4 separate regions of the Homo sapiens genome follow, and all the other regions are linked to region 4. The links come from fine-mapping of genetic effects on gene expression. A gene starts in region 4. Each other region holds a variant in brackets. All regions are shown on one strand. Distances are from middle to middle.

Evidence for each region. PIP is the estimated chance that this variant, and not a neighbour inherited with it, causes the effect. A credible set is the group of variants that fine-mapping cannot tell apart.
Region 1: its variant is the best candidate, but not a certain one, in a credible set for the expression of TNNT1 in whole blood (INTERVAL, PIP 0.68).
Region 2: its variant is the best candidate, but not a certain one, in a credible set for the expression of TNNT1 in monocytes after R848 (Quach 2016, PIP 0.64).
Region 3: its variant is the best candidate, but not a certain one, in a credible set for the expression of TNNT1 in whole blood (TOPMed, PIP 0.51).

What each region holds. Positions count from the first base shown.
Region 1 is chr19:55,109,704-55,114,849 of GRCh38, reverse strand. It overlaps PPP1R12C (protein phosphatase 1 regulatory subunit 12C), which reads left to right. Exons shown (of 22, transcript NM_017607.4): 2 at 2,055-2,185; 3 at 2,265-2,383. Among named protein-coding and RNA genes, the nearest start is that of PPP1R12C, 5.4 kb to the left of the region's middle. RefSeq lists enhancers at 369-995, 996-1,622, 1,534-1,663. The variant C/T (reference allele first, on the strand shown) is at 2,583.
Region 2 is chr19:55,101,826-55,106,971 of GRCh38, reverse strand. It overlaps PPP1R12C (protein phosphatase 1 regulatory subunit 12C), which reads left to right. Exons shown (of 22, transcript NM_017607.4): 4 at 3,404-3,563. Among named protein-coding and RNA genes, the nearest start is that of PPP1R12C, 13 kb to the left of the region's middle. The variant A/GTA (reference allele first, on the strand shown) is at 2,775.
Region 3 is chr19:54,889,936-54,895,081 of GRCh38, reverse strand. It overlaps FCAR (Fc alpha receptor), which reads right to left. Exons shown (of 5, transcript NM_002000.4): 5 at 3,662-5,146. Among named protein-coding and RNA genes, the nearest start is that of NCR1, 14 kb to the left of the region's middle. RefSeq lists enhancers at 940-1,692, 1,693-2,443. The variant G/A (reference allele first, on the strand shown) is at 2,003.
Region 4 is chr19:55,146,663-55,151,797 of GRCh38, reverse strand. It overlaps TNNT1 (troponin T1, slow skeletal type), which reads left to right and starts at 2,592. Exons shown (of 14, transcript NM_003283.6): 1 at 2,592-2,637; 2 at 4,630-4,672; 3 at 4,777-4,790; 4 at 5,091-5,117. The coding sequence starts at 4,641. TNNI3 (troponin I3, cardiac type) reads left to right here. Exons shown (of 8, transcript NM_000363.5): 8 at 1-31.

The DNA of each region.
Region 1 (5,146 bases), 37 kb after region 4:
CTACTTGGCCTGGACCCCACGAGAGGCCACCCCAGCCCTGTCTACCAGGCTGCCTTTTGGGTGGATTCTCCTCCAACTGTGGGGTGACTGCTTGGCAAACTCACTCTTCGGGGTATCCCAGGAGGCCTGGAGCATTGGGGTGGGCTGGGGTTCAGAGAGGAGGGATTCCCTTCTCAGGTTACGTGGCCAAGAAGCAGGGGAGCTGGGTTTGGGTCAGGTCTGGGTGTGGGGTGACCAGCTTATGCTGTTTGCCCAGGACAGCCTAGTTTTAGCACTGAAACCCTCAGTCCTAGGAAAACAGGGATGGTTGGTCACTGTCTCTGGGTGACTCTTGATTCCCGGCCAGTTTCTCCACCTGGGGCTGTGTTTCTCGTCCTGCATCCTTCTCCAGGCAGGTCCCCAAGCATCGCCCCCCTGCTGTGGCTGTTCCCAAGTTCTTAGGGTACCCCACGTGGGTTTATCAACCACTTGGTGAGGCTGGTACCCTGCCCCCATTCCTGCACCCCAATTGCCTTAGTGGCTAGGGGGTTGGGGGCTAGAGTAGGAGGGGCTGGAGCCAGGATTCTTAGGGCTGAACAGAGAAGAGCTGGGGGCCTGGGCTCCTGGGTTTGAGAGAGGAGGGGCTGGGGCCTGGACTCCTGGGTCCGAGGGAGGAGGGGCTGGGGCCTGGACTCCTGGGTCTGAGGGTGGAGGGACTGGGGGCCTGGACTCCTGGGTCCGAGGGAGGAGGGGCTGGGGCCTGGACTCGTGGGTCTGAGGGAGGAGGGGCTGGGGGCCTGGACTTCTGGGTCTTAGGGAGGCGGGGCTGGGCCTGGACCCCTGGGTCTGAATGGGGAGAGGCTGGGGGCCTGGACTCCTTCATCTGAGGGCGGAAGGGCTGGGGCCTGGCCTCCTGGGTTGAATGGGGAGGGGTTGGGCCTGGACTCTGGAGTCCCTGGTGCCCAGGCCTCAGGCATCTTTCACAGGGATGCCTGTACTGGGCAGGTCCTTGAAAGGGAAAGGCCCATTGCTCTCCTTGCCCCCCTCCCCTATCGCCATGACAACTGGGTGGAAATAAACGAGCCGAGTTCATCCCGTTCCCAGGGCACGTGCGGCCCCTTCACAGCCCGAGTTTCCATGACCTCATGCTCTTGGCCCTCGTAGCTCCCTCCCGCCTCCTCCAGATGGGCAGCTTTGGAGAGGTGAGGGACTTGGGGGGTAATTTATCCCGTGGATCTAGGAGTTTAGCTTCACTCCTTCCTCAGCTCCAGTTCAGGTCCCGGAGCCCACCCAGTGTCCACAAGGCCTGGGGCAAGTCCCTCCTCCGACCCCCTGGACTTCGGCTTTTGTCCCCCCAAGTTTTGGACCCCTAAGGGAAGAATGAGAAACGGTGGCCCGTGTCAGCCCCTGGCTGCAGGGCCCCGTGCAGAGGGGGCCTCAGTGAACTGGAGTGTGACAGCCTGGGGCCCAGGCACACAGGTGTGCAGCTGTCTCACCCCTCTGGGAGTCCCGCCCAGGCCCCTGAGTCTGTCCCAGCACAGGGTGGCCTTCCTCCACCCTGCATAGCCCTGGGCCCACGGCTTCGTTCCTGCAGAGTATCTGCTGGGGTGGTTTCCGAGCTTGACCCTTGGAAGGACCTGGCTGGGTTTAAGGCAGGAGGGGCTGGGGGCCAGGACTCCTGGCTCTGAAGGAGGAGGGGCTGGAACCTCTTCCCTAGTCTGAGCACTGGAAGCGCCACCTGTGGGTGGTGACGGGGGTTTTGCCGTGTCTAACAGGTACCATGTGGGGTTCCCGCACCCAGATGAGAAGCCCCCTCCCTTCCCCGTTCACTTCCTGTTTGCAGATAGCCAGGAGTCCTTTCGTGGTTTCCACTGAGCACTGAAGGCCTGGCCGGCCTGACCACTGGGCAACCAGGCGTATCTTAAACAGCCAGTGGCCAGAGGCTGTTGGGTCATTTTCCCCACTGTCCTAGCACCGTGTCCCTGGATCTGTTTTCGTGGCTCCCTCTGGAGTCCCGACTTGCTGGGACACCGTGGCTGGGGTAGGTGCGGCTGACGGCTGTTTCCCACCCCCAGGCCTGCATTGATGAGAACCTGGAGGTGGTGCGCTTCTTGGTGGAGCAGGGCGCCACTGTGAACCAGGCAGACAACGAGGGCTGGACGCCACTGCACGTGGCCGCCTCCTGTGGCTACCTAGATATCGCCAGGTGAGGCAAGGGAGGGCCGGGCAGGACCTGGTCGGGGTGGGGGCCTGGACCCTCAGCCCTGACCAGCCCCCACCCCCAGGTACCTCCTGAGCCACGGGGCCAACATCGCCGCCGTCAACAGTGACGGGGACCTGCCCCTGGACCTGGCCGAGTCGGACGCCATGGAGGGGCTGCTGAAGGCGGAGATCGCCCGCCGAGGTGGGCTCTGGTGTGCTGTGTGTGGGGTGGGGGACACCTCCTCACCCGTGGTCTCCAGGCTGAGAGCTTTAGAGGCGGCCTGGGCACCGAGGCTGACCCTGCTTCCTAGGATTGTCTTTCTTTGTGCCTCAGTTTCCTCACCTGTGAAATGGGGGTGTAGGGGCCTGCCTCCAGGATTGCTTGGAGCCCAGCACACGCA[C/T]AGGATGAGAACTCAAACCCCTACCAACTGGGACTGTCAATCCCCCTGAGTAACTGAGGGGATTGGAATGCCGGGGCGGGGTGGGTGGGTGGAGGGACTCACCCAGGAGTGCGTTAGGTAGGATTGCTGGAACCCTGCCGCAGGTCTTTCTGGGAGGGGATGCGTTTACTTGGGGGGGAGTAGGGGCATGCAGGGGTTGCCAGGGACTGGTCTCCCTGTCCTCTGAGACTCATCGTACCCCAGGAGCCTTCATATGGGGTCCAGGAGCCCCTGAAACTGTGTCTGGCCAGGTTCATTTTTCTAGGGAAGGGGTGTTGCTTCTAGCAGGTGTGTGATGGCCACACAGGATCCCTGGGTCCCCAGCATGTCTTCTAAAGTCCTGGGCTTGCCTCCCAGCTCTGCCTGTGACTGGTGACTCCAGGCACGTCCCTGAAGCTTGCTTCCCTGATTTCCTAAAACAGGACCACTGGTGCCGCTTCATGGGGTGGTTGTCAGGGTCTGGCTGGGTTGGAGTGGAAGGGTGTGAGCATGGTTCCCGGCAGACTCCAGGGGACCGTGTGGAAGGAAAGGGAGACTGACGAGGAAATGAGATACCGGCAGCCTCCGAGACTTCTGACGCGGCTGTCCTGACGGGGCCGCTGGCCAGGCTGAAAGGATAGGATTCCGCGTGGGTTCAGGGGTCCACGAGAGCCATGCGGGAGGACTAGCTAGTGGGACACGTGACGGCGGAGATCTGAGGTTCGGGAGCCCCTCTTTGGTTGAAATGGGGAGTGGGTCAAATCAGCCCTGGACCTGGATTCTGTCTCCTTCCTCCTCCAACTTTTTATTTTGGGAAAGCTTCAGATTTACAGAAAAGTTGAAGCAATAGCATGTGACTACCCATATGACTTTCACTAAGATTCGCCAGTGCTTTTTCTTTTTTGTTTTTGTTTTTTAGACAGCTTTTTGAGATGTAATTCACCTACCCTACAATTCACCCAAAGTGCACACTTCAGTGCTTTTTAGTCTATTCACGGGGTCGGGCATTTATGACCACATTGGTTGTAGAACATTTTCATCATCCCCCAACGAAACCCTGCAACCGCTTAGCCATCACCCCCAACCATGCACCCCCCCCTCCCCCCCACCCCACGAAGCCCTCTCTGCCTTCTGTCTGTGGATTTGCTGTTTTGTACACTTCACATAAAGGGAATCATACAGTATAGAATCATCAGCTTTTAACTTTTTGATAGATTTGTGTTCCTTCTCTCTGTCCCTCCCTTGCGATCTCTTCCCAGGTATAGACATAAACACATTTTTTCCTATCCTTTCTCCTCCTGTTTTTTTCCCTCCATCTCTCCCTTCCTTTCTTACCACCCCACCCCTGCCTTTCCATTCCTGAGCCTTTTTTTTTTTTTTGAAACAGAGTTTCACTTTTTGCCCAGGCTGGAGTGCAATGGCATGATTTCGGCTCACTGCAACCTCCACCTCCTGGGTTCAAGCGATTCTCCTGCCTCAGCTTCTGGGTAGCTGAGATTACAGGCGTGAGCCAGCATGCCCAGCTAATTTTGCATTTTTAATAGAGATGGGGTTTCACCATGTTGACCAGGCTGGTCTCCAACTCCTGACCTCAGGCGATCTGCTGGCCTCGGCCTCGCAAAGTGTTGGGATTACAGGCGTGAGCCCGGCCATTCTGAGACTGTGTTGCAGGCATTGTACATCTTCGCCTGATGCACAGCAGGTATCTCCTGCCACAAGGAAAACCTCCTGCAGAACCACAGTAGGGATGCAACACGCTACCCCCTGTGTTGACCTTGATGCTACACTCTCACCCACCGCACCAACCTTGATGCTACACTCTCACCCACCGCACCAACCTTGATGCTACACTCTCACCCACCGCACCAACCTTGATGCTACACTCTCACCCACCGCACCAACCTTGATGCTACACTCTCACCCACCGCACCAACCTTGATGCTACACTCTCACCCACTGCACCAACCTTGATGCTACACTGTTGCCTGCGTTTCTCCTTGACATTCTTTGTAGCCTCTCCCGCTCTGGTTCAGGGCCCAGCTAGGGATCCAGATCTGGGTGATTTAGGCTCCCTCTGTCTGGATCAGTCCTCCTTTTCCCTTGGACCCCAGGGAGGCCGGGAATGGCCTCCAGGGGGTCTGTGAACTTTCTGACGTTGTATTTTCCTGCAGAAATTGCTCATAACTTGCATCAGCTTCTCAGAGGGGGCCATGCTTCTTCCCTCCCGTGGGGTGAGGAGAAGGCTGGGAGGGATACATTGGTGGGGGATATTGGCTTGTAGGATCAGCCAGGAACGAAGACCACTGGGGCCACTGGAAAGACCCTCAGCCGTGCTGCTCGGGGTGGGACTCTGCGGCCCCAAATCACAAGGCGACTGCCTGTGACACCCTGTGACACCCGGCTCCACACAGGAGCCTCAGAGGGGCTGCAGTGCGCAGGACCTGGATCACAGGCTGCACCCCAGCTCTAAGGAGGGCGGGTCTTTTGCACCCCCTGCAGGACACGCCCACATGATGCAGAATTCCCCGAGGTGCTGGCATCCAGAC
Region 2 (5,146 bases), 45 kb after region 4:
GGCACTCAGCATGGGTCCTACTGCAGGCCCATATCACAGCCAAAACACAGCACCTCTTGCCCTGTGCGTGATGCTCACTGGGCCACCTTGGTCAGATGGCAGCTCCTGAGCCCATCACTGTTGCAAAGGTGACAGGAAGGCCTGGTGATGTGCGCACCCTGGAGCCAGGCTATGGGCCCGGTCACATTGAAACCATATGGGGCAAAGTGTGGGTGAGGAAAGTCAAGATGAGGTCACAGGGGAAGGGAGAATGGATTTTCGTAGGCCCAAGCAGCAGCTGTGCTGCAGGGACACGCAGCAGCACCATGTCCTGTGCAGAAGGGACCCTCCCTGGCCACTTTGCACAGGGGCATGGAACTGGCAGGAAGAAGACATGATGTGTTTTTGAAACATTTGAAGCCAGCTCACTTGGAATTCCAGCATCCAAGTCAGCTGGAAGAGGGGGAGTTACCCTTGGAGGCAGGCGGAATCGACCATTGGATAGCTCCAAGTGCTGACAAGGGCGGACACGGGAGCTGATTTCTGCCTGGTGGGAAAGGTGATGATTCCAGCTACTTTGGGAAGTGGTTGGTCAGCATGGATTATAGCCGAAGGCCCCAGCTTTGCCTTGTTCTAGCAGTTCCACTCCTGGGCAGCCCGAGAGAGGCCTTCCCAACCATGGGCAGATGTTCATCATAGTATTGTTTGCAGTAGTAAGAGGTCGGAGCCCACACCAAAGAGGATGGATCAATCACTAAACTCTAAATGAGTGATCTAAGCAGGGGTCAGCAAACTTTCTCTGTAAAGGGCTAGACAATGAATGTTTCAGGTGTTGCGGGACACACCATGCCTGGCACCACTATTCCACTAGTGCTGTGGAGCGGGAGACTGCTAGGGATGGTGTGTGAATGAATGGGAATGACTGTTCCATCCCACGTTTATTGACAAAAATCGCCTTTCAGAATAGGCAAATCCACAGGGACAGAAAGATTGCTGGGTGCAAGGGGCTGGCGGAGAGGGAGGTCTGAGAAGTGACTTTTTTTTTTTTTTTAAGACAGGATCTCACGCTGCCTCCCAGGCTGGAGTGCGGTGGAGTGATAATGGCTCACTGCAGCCTTGACCTCGTGGGCCCAAGTGATCCTTCCATCTCAGCCTCCCAAGTAGCTGAGACCATAGGTGTGCACCACCATGCCCAGCTAATTTTATTTTTCTAGAGACAAGGTCTCCCTATGTTGCTCAGGCTGTTCTCAAACTAGTGGGCTCAAGTGATCTCCCATCTTGGCCTCCCAAAGTACTGGGATTACAGGCATGAGCCATGGTGCCTGGCTGGGAGTGACTTCTTCTTGGATACAGTATCCATTTGGGATCATGAAAAAGCTCAGGAAGTAGATAGTGGTGATGGTTGCATAATATTGGAGGTATCCTAAATGCCACTGAATTGTGCACTTTAAAACAGGGAAGTTGGTAAATTTTATGTTGTTTATTTTACCACCACCACCACAACAAAAGATAAAGAAAACACAACAGGTGGTCAACACCCACAAGCTATAGCTTTCTGACCCCTGGGCAAGGGCTCTGTCTACAGATACAGACAGATCTCAGCAACATGTTGAACACAAGAAGCAAATTGCAGAAGGATGTGCAGCAGACATGCAGAGGGCGCTGACTGTGGTTGAATAAAAAGCCAGTCACCCTCCCTTCCCCTCCCTGAATTGAGACCCATTCGGCTATAATAGGATTGAACAGTTGGTGACTCCTTTAAAGAAATGACACAGCCAGGTGTGGTGGCTCATGCCGGCTTTGGGAGGCCAAGGCAGGAGGATCCCTTGAGCCTGGGAATTTGAGGCTTCAGTGAGCCATAATTGCACCACTGTACTCCAGCCTGGGTGACAGTGTGAGGTCCTGTCTCAAAAAAAAAAAAAGGGTCAGATGCGGTGGCTCCTGCCTGTAATTTCAGCACTTTGGGAGGCCGAGGCGGGTGGATCATGAGGTCAGGAGTTCAAGACCAGCCTGGCCAACATGATGAAACCCCATCTCTATTAAAAATACAAAAGTTAGCTGGGTGTGGTGGCGTGTGCCTGTAATCCCAGCTACTCAAGAAGCTGAGGCAGGAGAACCGCTTGAACCTGGGAGGCAGAAGTTGCAGTGAGCCAAGATCATGCCACTGCACTCCAGCCTGGGTGACAGAGCGAGACCATATATATATATATATGGCCTAAAGTTTACTGAGCAAATCCAGTGCTCAATTACATCTAACTTTTCCTGTCACTACCAATATAATTTTTTTTTTTTTTGGAGACGGAGTCTCACTCTATCACCCAGGCTGGAGTGCAGTGGTGCAATCTCACTGCAACTTCCGCCTCCAAGATTCAAGAGATCCTTCCGCCTCAGCCTCCCAAGTAACTGGGATTACAGGCATAAGTCACCATGCTGAGCTAATTTTGGTATTTTTAGGAGAGACACGGTTTCAACACGTTGGGCAGGCTGGTCTCGAACTCTTGACCTCAGGTGATCTGCCCACCTTGGTCTCCCAAAGTGTTGGGATTACAGGCATGAGCCGTTGTGCCACCCCCCAATATAATCTTAATCCAGCATCTTCATACATTTTATCACCATTACCACTTCTGTCTATATATGTTACATATATAGGAGAGATATATATATAGGTTTTATATATATAGGAAATGTGTATATATAGGTGTTATATATATAGGAGATGCATATATATGTTATATATATATTATATATATAAATATTTTTTATATTTATATTTTTGTATGTGTGTGTGTGTGTAT[A/GTA]TATATATATATATATACTTTTTTTTTTTTTTTTTTAGACAGAGTCTCACTGTGTTGCCCAGGCTGGAGTGCAGTGGCGTGATCTCAGCTCACTGCAACCTCCAACTCCCGGGTTCAAGCGATTCTCCTGCCTCAGCCTCCCAAGTAGCTGGGACTACAGCCACCTGCCACCACACCTGGCTAAATTTTTTTTTTTTTTTTTGTAGTTTTAGTAGAGATGGGGTTTCACTGTGTTGGCCAGGCTGGTCTTGAAGTCCTGAGCTCGTGATCCACCTGCCTTGGCCTCTCAAAGTTGCTGGGATTGCAGGCATGAGCCACTGCACCCGGCCATGGTTTTATATTAAAAATAATAAAAATACGGTGAATTTCTGGTTGAAATGGGGAAAGGCCTGTGATCTCCGTTTTCCCAGTGCTTAGCGCTGACTCAGAGACCCTGAGTGGGACACACGACTGCATGGAGTACAGTTGGGAAACAACTGGGCTAGTCTGGGCCTCCTGAGTCTCAGAGGGGAGCAGGGGGAAGAGCTCTGGGCAAGTCACTGGGCTGAACCCTGGCCAGCCCAGTGTATGACCCTGGGTATTTCAGGTCATGGGGTGTGAGTCCTACCTCGTGCCTCTTATCCTCCTAGGTGTGGATGTGGAAGCAGCCAAGCGGGCAGAAGAGGAATTGCTCCTTCATGACACGAGGTGCTGGCTGAATGGGGGCGCCATGCCAGAGGCCCGGCACCCCCGCACAGGCGCCTCTGCCCTGCACGTGGCTGCTGCCAAGGGCTACATTGAGGTGATGAGGTGAGTTGGGCCAGTCTGTTCCATCTTGCTGTCTTATACCTTCCTGTGGATCTTGTCCTTTCCCTTTCTTTTTAAATGTATGTACCGAAGGCTATGTATTTCCCTCTAAATACAGCCTTAGCTGTACCCACAAGTTTTGATGTGCAGTCTTTTTTTTATTGTCATTCAGTGTAAAATATTTCCCAATTTGTAATCTTTTATTATTTATTTATTTTGAGACAGGGTCTTGCTATGTCACCCAGGCTGGAGTGCAGTGGCACAGTCGTGGCTCACTGCAGCCTCAAACTCCCCAGGCTCAGGTGATCCTCCTACCTCAGCCTCCTGAATAGTGGGGACTACAGGCGCACACCACCATGCCCCGCTAATTTTTGTAGAGATGGGGTTTCACCATGTGGCCCAGGCTTGTCTCGAACTCCTGGGCTCAAGTGATCCTCCTACCTCAGCCTCCCAAAGTGCTGGGATTACAGGTGTAAGCCACTGTGCTTGGCCTAATTTCAAAATATATAGGACTTCTAGTCATCATTTTGTTACTATTTTCCTGGCTTAATTGCATTGTGGTCAGAGAATGGGTTCCATATGATTCTAGCTTTTGAAATGTATCGTTTTACCTTATATACCCCAGTACATGTAAGTCGGAAAAGAATGGTGTCATCAGGTACAGTGTTCTCTGTAGGTTATTAGGTCAACCTTGTAATCATGCTGTTTTATTTGTAGTGCTTCTTTATCTTTAGTGATATTTCACCCACTGCTTATTCTGTCAGTTACTATGAGAGGTGCATTTAAATTCTTGCTGTGATTATGGACTTTGTTTCTTCTTATAGTTCTGTCAGTTACAATTTGTATATATTTTAAGACTAGATTATTTGGTGCATATATAGTTTATTTTTGTTTGTTTTTGAGACGGAGTCTCGCTCTGTCACCTAGGCTGGAGTGCAGTGGTGTGATCATAGCTCACTGCAACCTCCACCTCCTGGGTTCAAGGAATTCTCCTGCCTCAGCCTCCCCAGGAGCTGTGACTATGAGAGTGTGCCACCACACTTGGCTAACTCGTATTTCTAGCAGAGATGGGGTTTCTCCATGTTGGCCAGGTTGCTCTTGAACTCCTGACCTCAGGTAATCTCCCTGCCTCAGTCTTCCAAAATGCTGGGGTTACAGGCGTGAGCCACTGCACCCAACCAAGGTGCATATATAGTTTAAATTGTTCTAGTACACATTCCCTTTCTGTCATCCTCACCTCAGTCTTAGATTTTGTTCCTATTTGGCTGCCTTTCCCCTTTCTATTAAAGTTGTTGGTTCCAGTTCTCATCCTCAGGCTCCTCATTCTTTTTTCAGTTCCCTCTTCTCTCTTTTGTGATCATATACTTTATTATTTAGTATAAAAATGAAGTTAACATGAATTCCTCCCTGTCTCTGCTCATCTCTATGTTGACAGTTTTTAGTCAGGTTTTCTCGGTGAGGTACATAAGATGCCTCTAACCGCTCCAGGCCGCTGTCCCTTCGGCTTAGCACCTGTAACAGCTCCAGGCCGCTGTCCCTTCGGCCTAGCACCCGTAACAGCTCCAGACCGCTGTCCCTTCTGCTTA
Region 3 (5,146 bases), 260 kb after region 4:
TGAACCTCCTTAGGCACTCTCTAATTAGATGTCCTAGGTCCTCCCAATTCTTAGACCTTTAATACCTGTTTTTCTCCTTTCCTTATTCCATTTAGTTTTTCAATTCATACAAAACTGCATCCAGGCCATCACCAGTAATTCTAAATGAAAAATGTTTCTTCTAACAATCCCACAATATCACCCCTTACCACAAAATCTTCCTTCAGCTTAATCTCTCCCACTCTAGGTTCCCACGCCGCCCCTAATCCCGCTCGAAGCAGCCCTGAGAAACATCGCCCATTCTCTCTCCATACCACCCCCCAAAATTTTCGCCATCCCAACACTTTACCACTATTTCGTTTTATTTTTCTTATTAATATAAGAAGACAGGAATGTCAGGCCTCTGAGCCCAAGCTAAGCCATCATATCCCCTGTGACCTGCACGTACACATCCAGATGGCCGGTTCCTGCCTTAACTGATGACATTCCACCACGAAAGAAATGAAAATGGCCTGTTCCTGCCTTAACTGATGACATTATCTTGTGAAATTCCTTCTTCTGGTTCATCCTGACTCAAAAGCTCCCCTACTGAGCACCTTGTGACCCCCCACTCCTGCCCACCAAAGAACAACCCCCCTTTGACTGTAATTTTCCTTTACCTACCCAAATCCTATAAAACGGCCCCACCCCTATCCCCCTTCGCTGACTCTCTTGTCGGACTCAGCCTGCCTGCACCCAGGTGAAATAAACAGCCTTGTTGCTCACACAGAGCCTGTTTGGTGGTCTCTTCACACGGACGCGCATGAAACAGACCAGCCTAGCCAACATGGTGAAACCCCGTCTCCACGAAAATACAAGAAATTAGCCGGGCGTGGCGGTGCGCACCTGTAGTTCCAGCTACTCGGGAGGCTGAGGCAGGGGAATCACTTGAACCTGGGAGGCGGAGATTGCAGTGAGCCCAGATCACACCAGCGTAGCGACAGAGTGAAACTCTGTCTCAAAAAAAAAAAAAAAAAAAAAAGAAAAAGAAGTTTTCTAAGGCCAGGCGCAGTGGCTCATGCCTGTAATCCAAGCACTTTTGGGAGGCTGAGGCGGGCAGATCACCTGAGGCCGGGAGTTCGAGACCGGCCTGACCAACATGGTGAAACCCTGTCTCTACTAAAAATACAAAAATGAGCTGGGCATGGCGGCGGGTGCCTGTAATCCCAGCTTCTTGGGTGCGGGGGGGATCTGTTCTGCAGATCCCAGCTGTACGACAGATGAGACACGTCCTCAGACACCAATATTCAGTGAAAGAGCAGGCCAGGGGGCTGCCGGCACTAGGAGCCAAAGAGAGTGCAGCCCCTCTAAGCTGGCAACGCTTGCATTTATTTAGCACAGATTTAATTAACAAAGGCTTTGAGTCAACACACCTGTGGGTAATTAACCTGGTCACCGCCCCCCGCCACCTCCCTGGAGAGGGCCATCTTGCCCGAGAATGATCAAAGGTTGATTTTAGGACCATATGACTAAGCAAGCTATTTAGATAAAATACTCCGCATTCCTTTGTATCTGCGCCCTAAGCTGTTTGGCTCCTGAAAAGAGAATCTGGCTGCTTTCAGCCAAACTATCTGAAGCTATGCCAACCTCCCTGGCCTTCCAAGAAGGTTTGCTGCTTCCTATTCCTATAATTTCTTCTGCTACTCTGACTGATCTCCCACACTTGGGAGGTTGAGGCAGGAGAATCCCTTGAACCAGGGAGGCAGAGGTTGCAGTGAGCCGAGATCACACTACTGCACTCCAACTTGGGTGACAAGAGCGAGACTCCATCTCAGAAAAAAAAGTTAAAAAAAAATTGTAGGCCAGGCGTGGTGGCTCACGCCTGTGATCCCAGCACTTTGGGAGGCCAAGGCGGGTGGATCACCTGAGGTCCAGAGTTCGAGACCAGCCTGACCAACATGGAGAAACCCCGTCTCTTCTAAAAATATAAAATTAGCCAGGCGTGGTGGCGCATGCCTGTAATCCCAGCTGCTCTGGAGGCTGA[G/A]GCAGGAGAATGGCTTGAGCCCAGGAGGCGGAGGTTGCGGTGAGCCGAGACCGCACCATTGCACTCCAGCCTGGGCAACAAGAGTGAGACTCTGTCTCAGAAAAAAAAAAAAAAAAATTGTAGTAAAAACATAACATACAATTTACCATCTTAGCCATTGTAAGTGTACAGTATAGCAGTGTTAAATGTATTCACGGTGTTTTGAAACAGATCTCCAGAATATTTTCATCTTGTAAAACTGAAACTCTATGCCTAAAAGAGGAATCGTTCAACACATAGAAGTTTTATTTCAACCATTTTTGTTGTTGTTGTTGAGATGGAGTCTTGCTCTGTCACCAAGGCTGGAGTGCGGTGGTACGATCTTGGCTCACTGCAACCTCCGCCTCCTGGGTTCAAGCCATTCTCCTGCCTCAGCCTCCTCAGTAGCTGGTAATGCAGGTGCGTGCCACCACACCTGGCTAATTTTTGTATTTTTAGTAGAGACGGGGTTTTGCCATGTTGGCCAGGCTGGTCTCGAACTCCTGGCCTCGTGATCTGCCTGCCTTAGCCTCCCAAAGTGCTGGGATTTCAGGTGTGAGCCACTGCGCTCAGCCTGGGAAATGTATACTTCAGAGATTGTTGGATTTTCAGGGCCTTCTGTGGCTTGACGTCATCTGGAAAAGTGTGGTCATTGGGAAGATATTACTTTGATTGGTTGTCACTCATGCTTGGGTGTTTACTGAAATGAGTCTGATTGGATGACTTTTAGAAGCAAGGAGCTGCCTGACTGATGGTAACATAACAATATAAAACGTATGGAGTGGCCGGGCTTTGTGGCTCACTCCTGTAATCCCAGCACTTTGAGAGGCTGAGGCAGGCAGATCACCCTGAGGTCAGAAGTTTGTGACCAGCTTGGCCAACATGGCGAAACCCGTCTGTACTAAAAATACAAAAATTATCTGCGTGTGGTGGCAGGTGCCTATAATCCCAGCTACTGGGGAGGCTGAGGCAGGAGAATTGCTGAACCCGGGAAAGAGAGGTTGCAGGGAGCCGAGGTCACGTCACTGCTCCCCAGCCTGGGTGACAGAGCAAGACCCCGTCTCAAAAAAAAAAAAAAAAAAAAAGAGCATCTTCACAGAGATGAGTTGTCATTGATGATGGGTTAAAAATCAGTTTTGGTGGCTACTTGTTACTGTGGTTACAGGACAATAAAATACTTTTCTGAAGAGCTCAGGAACTTTATTATTCTGAAAACGCTTTTTCCAAACAAGGTCCTTCTGTCAGCAAAACGACTTATATGAGTTTAATCTTATCCATCTCTGGGAATCTAGCCCCATTGTGTCTCTGTAATCCAAGTCCTGGACCTGACGTAAAGTCCCTCAACCCCCTTCATCCAAAATTGTGGCACTTTCCCTTTATTTATTTATTTATTATTTATTTGTTTGTTTACTTTTGAGACGGAGTCTCGCTCTGTGGCCCAGGCTGGAGTGTAGTGGCGTGATCTCAGCTCATTGCAAGCCCCGCCTCCCAGGTTCACGCCATTCTCCTGCCTCAGCCCCTGGAGTAGCTGGGACTACAGGCACCTGCCACCACACCTGGTGAAAAAAATCAGAACAAACTGAAGATATGGGCCAGAACTTGTATAAAGTGTGAAAAGCAGTCAATAAAGAAAGTTAGAAATACTTTGCATTTTTTTTTTAATCACAGGACCTGAGTTAAGCCAAGAATACAGTAGAAATTTTATCAAGTAGAGATAAGCTCTCAGTAAAGGATAAAAGTGGGCCTAAGTCCCTTCAGTTTCACTGGAAGTAGGACCCTTACATTTTATAATTATATTTTCATACATAAGCTACTGGACAATGAAGTAAATAGCAATCAGTGAAAGAGCCACATATGACCAACTTAGATTTCCTTGAGTAAAGTCTGTCAAGGGTAAAGCTGTGAAAGTTTATAAGAAAAAAGAATGGGGAATTATTTGGAAGACCATTTGAGTTTTGTACACAAGAATTTAATGTTTGCACACTTGATAATATATGTGAATATCATCAAAACTAAGTGAAAAAATAAATTAATGAGGTGAAACACATGCCTGTATTCCTTGTATGAAAATCCGGTAGAAATAGGGTTTGTGAAATAAATAGGGTAATCCTCCTGTAGGATTATGACTTTCACTCTTATCAATTTGTAGATGAACACAGCAGGAGGCTGAGGTAGGAGGATTGCTTGAGACCAGGAGTTCAAGACCAGCTTAGGCAACATAGGGAGAGCCTCACTTCAACAAAAAAAAATAAAGGAGGGGGGTTATTGAATATATTTGGCATGCTTACCAACCATTTATATTTGGGGAAGACACATTTAAAAATATAAAAAGAAGGCTGGGCGCAGTGGCTCACATCTGTAATCCCAGCACTTTGGGAGGCCGAGGCGGGCAGATCACGAGGTCAGAAGTTTGAGACCAGCTTGGCCAATGTGATGAAACCCCGTCTCTACTAAAAATACTGTAAAAGTAGCTGGGCGTGATGGTGGGAGCCTGCAATCCCAGCTACTTGGGAGGCCGAGGCAGGAGAATCACTTGAACCCAGGAGGCAGAGGTTGCAGTGAGCCGAGATCGTGCCACTGCACTCCAGCCTGGGCAACAGAGTGAGACTCTGTCTCAAATAAAAATAAAAATAAAAATAAATAAAATAAATAAAAAAAGAGAAGAACAATGAAGGAAGAAATTAAACAGGATATAAAAAATCAGAAGACAGATAAGATGGAAAACCATAACTTATGTGCAGAAAGGTGGGTGCAAATCGATCAGTCCTGCATAAGAAAACACCATTTGATTGGTTTGAACATGCATCTGGCCAGGCGTGGTGGCTCATGCCTATAATCTCAGCACTTTGGGAGGCCAAGGTGGGTGGATCACCTGAGGTCAGGAGTTCGAGACCAGCCTGGCCAACACAGTGAAACCCCATCTCTACTAAAAATACAAAAATTAGCTGGGTGCAGTGGTATGTGCCTGTAATTCCAGCTACTTGGGAGGCTGAGGCACAAGAATCACTTGAACCCAAGAGGTTCAATGAGCCGAGATTGCTCCACTGCACTCCAGCCTGGGTGACAGAGCCAGACTCTGTCTCAAAAAAAAAAAAAAGTAGATTCAAGCTTCTTAGTGAGCTTTTC
Region 4 (5,135 bases):
CTGAGGAATAAAGCTTCTCTCTGAGCTGAAAGTGACTCCATGTCTATTACCCAGGGCTTAGGCAGGAGACAGATGGGAAGACTGCAGGTGGGGCTCCCCCAAAGCCACACAGCAGGTTGGGGACCAGATGGGTCTCCCATGTGAAGCACTCTTGGCTGTGTTATTGAAAAGAATCCCGGGGTTCATGAATTTGGAGAGCGGAGCTTTGTTTCTTAAGAAGCGGATCACAACCTGAAGACCAGAAGCATGGCTTCTTGCCAAAAAACAAAAGCAGGCACTTTAAGGGAGGGAAGGGCAAGGCAGGAATTTATGCTGAGTGGGTTAGCTAAGTGCACGTATTCAACTGGTTATAGAAGGAGCTATGAATATTCATGGACAGGTGGACACATGGACACACGCATGTGTGACAAGCAAACACTCATTTTTTTTTTTTTTTGAGACGGAGTCTTGCTCTGTCACCCAGGCTGGAGTGCAGTGGCACGATCTCAGCTCACTGCAACCTCTGCGTCCTGGGTTCAAGCCATTCTCCTGCCTCAGCCTCTCCAGTAGCTGGGATTACAGGCATGCACCACCACGCCCAGCTAATTTTTGTGTTTTTCGTAGAGACGGGGTTTCACCATGTTGGCCAGGCTGGTCTCGATTTCCTGACCTCGTGATCCGCCCTCCTTGGCCTCCCAAAGTGCTGGGATTACAGGCGTGAGCCACCGCGACTGGCCGCAAACACATTTTACATGCATCCCACCTTCACTTGGTGGTGGAGGCTTAACATTTAAGTGCATTCCATTGAATGCATTCGTATCGAAACACGAAGCAGGGATATGAAGACACTCAGTGCACAGCCTCTGTCAACAGCCAGAACCAGTCCGTGGTCTGCGGCATCTTATCAGGAGAAAGTTACTGAAATCAGTCTCTTGTTCAACTAATGCTGTAGTTATGCCTTGTGGAACAGGGGGTTCAGCTAGTCAGCATCTGGCAATGGATGGCTGCAATGGTTGTAATATTGCTTATCTTGAGGCCGGTGCTTGTTTAGCTGCTAGAAAAAGGAAAAGCCTTGTGGCAGTTGGAACATAGTCGATTATATAAGTGTAGGGATGCGTGGCTTAACCCTTGCCTGGCATGGCCTTAGGTCTTGTTTATAATTTGGTATCTTATTGCCACAAACAGTTCATTCCATCAGTCTTCTGATCTCTATTGTCACAGCTCCTCTGGCCCATGTGGAGTGCACAGAGATGCCAAGACTAAAGGTCAAAGAGAGAGAGACACAGAGAAACAGACAGGCAGAGAGACATGACCGACAACAGAGAGACTGAGTTGGGAGTAGAGAGAGTAGGAGCCAGGCAAAGACCCAAAGAGAGAGGGAGAAAATACCACAAGATGCATAGAAGGAAGTGCAAAGAAAGGAGAAAAGAGAGACAGAGATATACTCACAGCAAGGTGCAGAGACATGGAGACCCTATAAGAGATGGAAATGGAGAGCCACAGAGGGGGAACTGCGGGCACTAAGAGAGACATGGAGAGAACTAGAAAGATAGAGACGTGAACACAGACACAGAGACCCAGAGCCAAAAAGAGACAGAAATGGGGTCATAGGTGGACAGAAATGCACAGAGAGACTGTGAGCCCCCACAGACACAAACGCTGAGAGGGGCAGACATGCAGAGACACCCACAGAAATGCAGAGACAAAACCACCCGGAGACACATGCCGAGAAACACACTGAGGGGCTCAGAAAGCGACAGATGCAGAGAGAGCCCAAGACAGACCCAGCAAGGGGCCCCGAGAAATGCACAGAAACACAAAGACCGAGACCACCAGAGACAGAGGTACGGAGAGGCGGGGAGGGTGAGGAAGCCTGCTCTCCAGGGCTGGCTTGAACCTAGAACTCAAGGTCATGGCTTGGCTGGGAAGCGGGAGGGGGATACCAAAAAAGATCAGCGTTAGATGGAGGTGGGGAGGGAGGGTAGGTTTCACCCTAATTGACACCCCACCCTCCCCCTCCCCCTCCCCACACCTGCTTCCCGGCTTTAGTGCCTGTTGTCACCAGGATGGAATCCTGGCGGCAGACAAAGGGGTGGGGGTGGGAGGAGGAGACAAAAAGATGGACAGAGACAGAGGAGGAGACTAAGAAGTAGAGACAGACACACAGAGACACACAGATGGAGAGCCACAGAGACAACAGAAATGGGGGTCCAGAAAGAGACCTAGATAGAAAGAGGGAACAGAGAGAAGAAAACAGGAAACATTCCTTATAGCCCATGTGTCATTAGTAGGTCCTCCAAGGACCTACTGTGTGCCGGGCATGGGGACGTCAAAGCACAGGGAGCTATAAGGGAGGTAGTTGGAGCACCACGGGAGCCTGGGGTGTGGGGTGGGAGCAGGGGCGGGGCTCCTGGGCCATGCAGATGGGGTTGGCATGGGGTTGGGGAGGGGCCCACGGAGGCTTCTGGACTCTGAGTGTGGAGCCAGGGGCAGCAGGGCTGTCTCTGAACTCCCAGGCTTGTGTTTGAGCAAAGGAATTCTCTCCCCCTCCCTCTCCCCTCGGGGCGGGCCCGAGCCTCCAGCTATAAACTCCCCGGAGCTTCAGTGCCCTCAGCAAGGCTCAGCCTCAAGATTCACAGCATCTCAGACACAGCCTAGGTAAGGGGCTCTGCGGAGCCCTGTGGTCTTCAAAAACCATGTCCTTGGGGGAGGGGGCAGGAGGCAGGTGGGGAAGATGTCGGGTGTGGAGAAATGGTGCAGAGGTAGGTGGGGCATACAACTGGAGGTCTGGGAACTTGAGAGGCTCAGACTTTAGGGGGACTCAGGATAGAGGGGAAAATACTAGGATTTGTGGGTTACACAAATCCTAACCCGGGGCTGCCAGGACTTGGATGTCCCAGAATAAAACCTCCTAGGATCTTGGGGTTCTGGGAATCTGGGGGAAATCTCAGCAGTCAGGGATATCTGGACTTGGAGGTCAAACAATCTGGGTGTCAGGATTTGGGGCCTCAGACTCTGAGGGTATCAGGAATTGGGGGGGTCTCAGAAGAAATTGGGGTTTTGGTAGTGGAGGGCTCGGAATCTGAGACATTATGATAGAAAGCATGAAAACTTAGAGTGCCATTATCTGGGGTATCATGAACTGGGCCTCCGAGTTTGGGTATCAAGATTTTGGGGGTCTCATATTCTTGAGGTTTCAGATTTTAGGAGGTCTCAAGACCTGGGGGTGGTCTTAGGATGTCCCGGCCCATATCTGGACTATCAAGAACTGGGATTTCAGAATCCAGAGCTGTGAGGACTTGCTGGCCTCAGAAACACGGGCATCATAAATCGGGGTCTCAGAATCTGTGGGTATTGGGATTTGGGGCTAGGCACCCTGTGGCCTAGGGTGTCTCAAAGACTTTGAGGTCTAAGAATGTAGGGGTCAGGGTGAGGTCTACGGACAGAAGGTGCCCTTTATGCCCCTGCCCCCTACGTGATGTATGGGAAGGTGAAAGGGGAGACAGGTGGGGAGGAAACCAGCCAGTGGGGTGGGGCGAGTGGGAGAGGGGATGCGGGTGACTAATTCTCCCAGAAGCCCCCCTTCCTCAAATCCCTTCTTAGGAAATGTCCTCGGTTTCACCATCTATGACATCCCCCCAAAATAGCTCCTGGGGGTGGGGCAGCTATTGTCTTCAGGCCACTGTCCCTTCTCAAATGCCTCTTCCTAATCCCAACTGGATCAGGTTCCCATGGACTTGTCATAAGACAAAAGAGGACAGCTGTGCTGAGGGGGCAGGGTCTGCAGCCTCCTGGCTGTGCCAGGACCACACCTACCAAGGTCTGTCCTCATGCATGCTTTAGGACAGCCGGCCCCCTCCCTCAGACCCAAGAGTCCAGACCTGAGCCCTCCTCCCTCAGACGCAGGAGTACAGGCCCCCAGCCCGCTCCTCCCTCAGACTCAGGAGTCTAGACTCCCAGCCTCTCCTCCCTTAGATCCAGGAGTCCAGGCCCCAGCTCCTCCTCCCTCAGACCCAGGAGGCCAGGCCCCCAGACCCTCCTCCCTCAGACCCAGGCGTCCAGGCCCGCGGCCCCTCCTCCCTCAGACCCAGGCGTCCAGGCCCCTGGCCCCTCCTCCCTCAGATCCAGGAGTCCAGACCCCAGCCCCTCCTCCCTCAGACCCAGGTGTCCAGGACAACCCATCTCAGTCTCAGGAGTCCACACCCACCCTCCCACACACCCCCCAGCCCCTCCTCCCTCAGACCCAGGAATCCGGCCCCCAGCCCCTCCTCCCTCAGATCCAGGAGTTCAGGACCCCAGTCCCTCCTCCCTCAGACCCAGAAGTCCAGGCCCCAGCCCCTCCTTCCTCAGACCCAGGAGTCCAGGCCCCAGCTCCTCCTCCCTCAGACCCAGGAGTCCAGACCCCAGCCCCTCCTCCCTCAGACCCAGGAGTCCAGGCCCCCAGCCCCTCCTTCCTCAGACCCAGGAGTCCAGGCCCCAGCTCCTCCTCTCTCACACCCAGGAGTCCAGACCCCAGCTCCTCCTCTCTCACACCCAGGAGTCCAGACCCAGGAGTCCAGGCCCCCAGCCCCTCCTCCCTCACACCCAGGAGTCTAGGTCGCCCCCTCCTTGGGGCCCCACCCCACTGGGCCTCTTCTCTCTGGTCCTTAGGCCGCACCAGGATGTCGGACACCGAGGAGCAGGAATATGAGGAGTGAGTGCTGCACTGGGAGGGGTTGGGGCGTGCAGTGGTGGAGAGGCTCTCCCACCCCAGGTCTAACTCTCCCCTCCCTCCTCTCTCCCCACACCCGTCCGCAGGGAGCAGCCGGAAGGTGAGTAGGGAGTGGGCCGGCCCTATGGGATGGGGACACGCCCAGGAGCTCTTGGGAGGGGAGGCGAGGAGTGTGGCACTTTGGCGGGGAAGGGGCGGCTCAGCCCTCGGGCCCTCGCCCGCCCTCTCCGGGTCTGGAGCGTCTCCTCGCGCCATCCCTGCACCGCCAGGGGGAACGTGCCCATCGCAGCCGAGGCCAGAGGGACCCCCGTCCAGCAGAGACTGGAACCCTGGTCTCTGGCCACCGCCCCCATCCCTCCCCCAGCTCCTAACGCCTTCTCTTCTGTGCCCCCATCTCCAGAGGAGGCTGCGGAGGAGGAGGAGGAAGGTGAGGTCCCGGACTCCG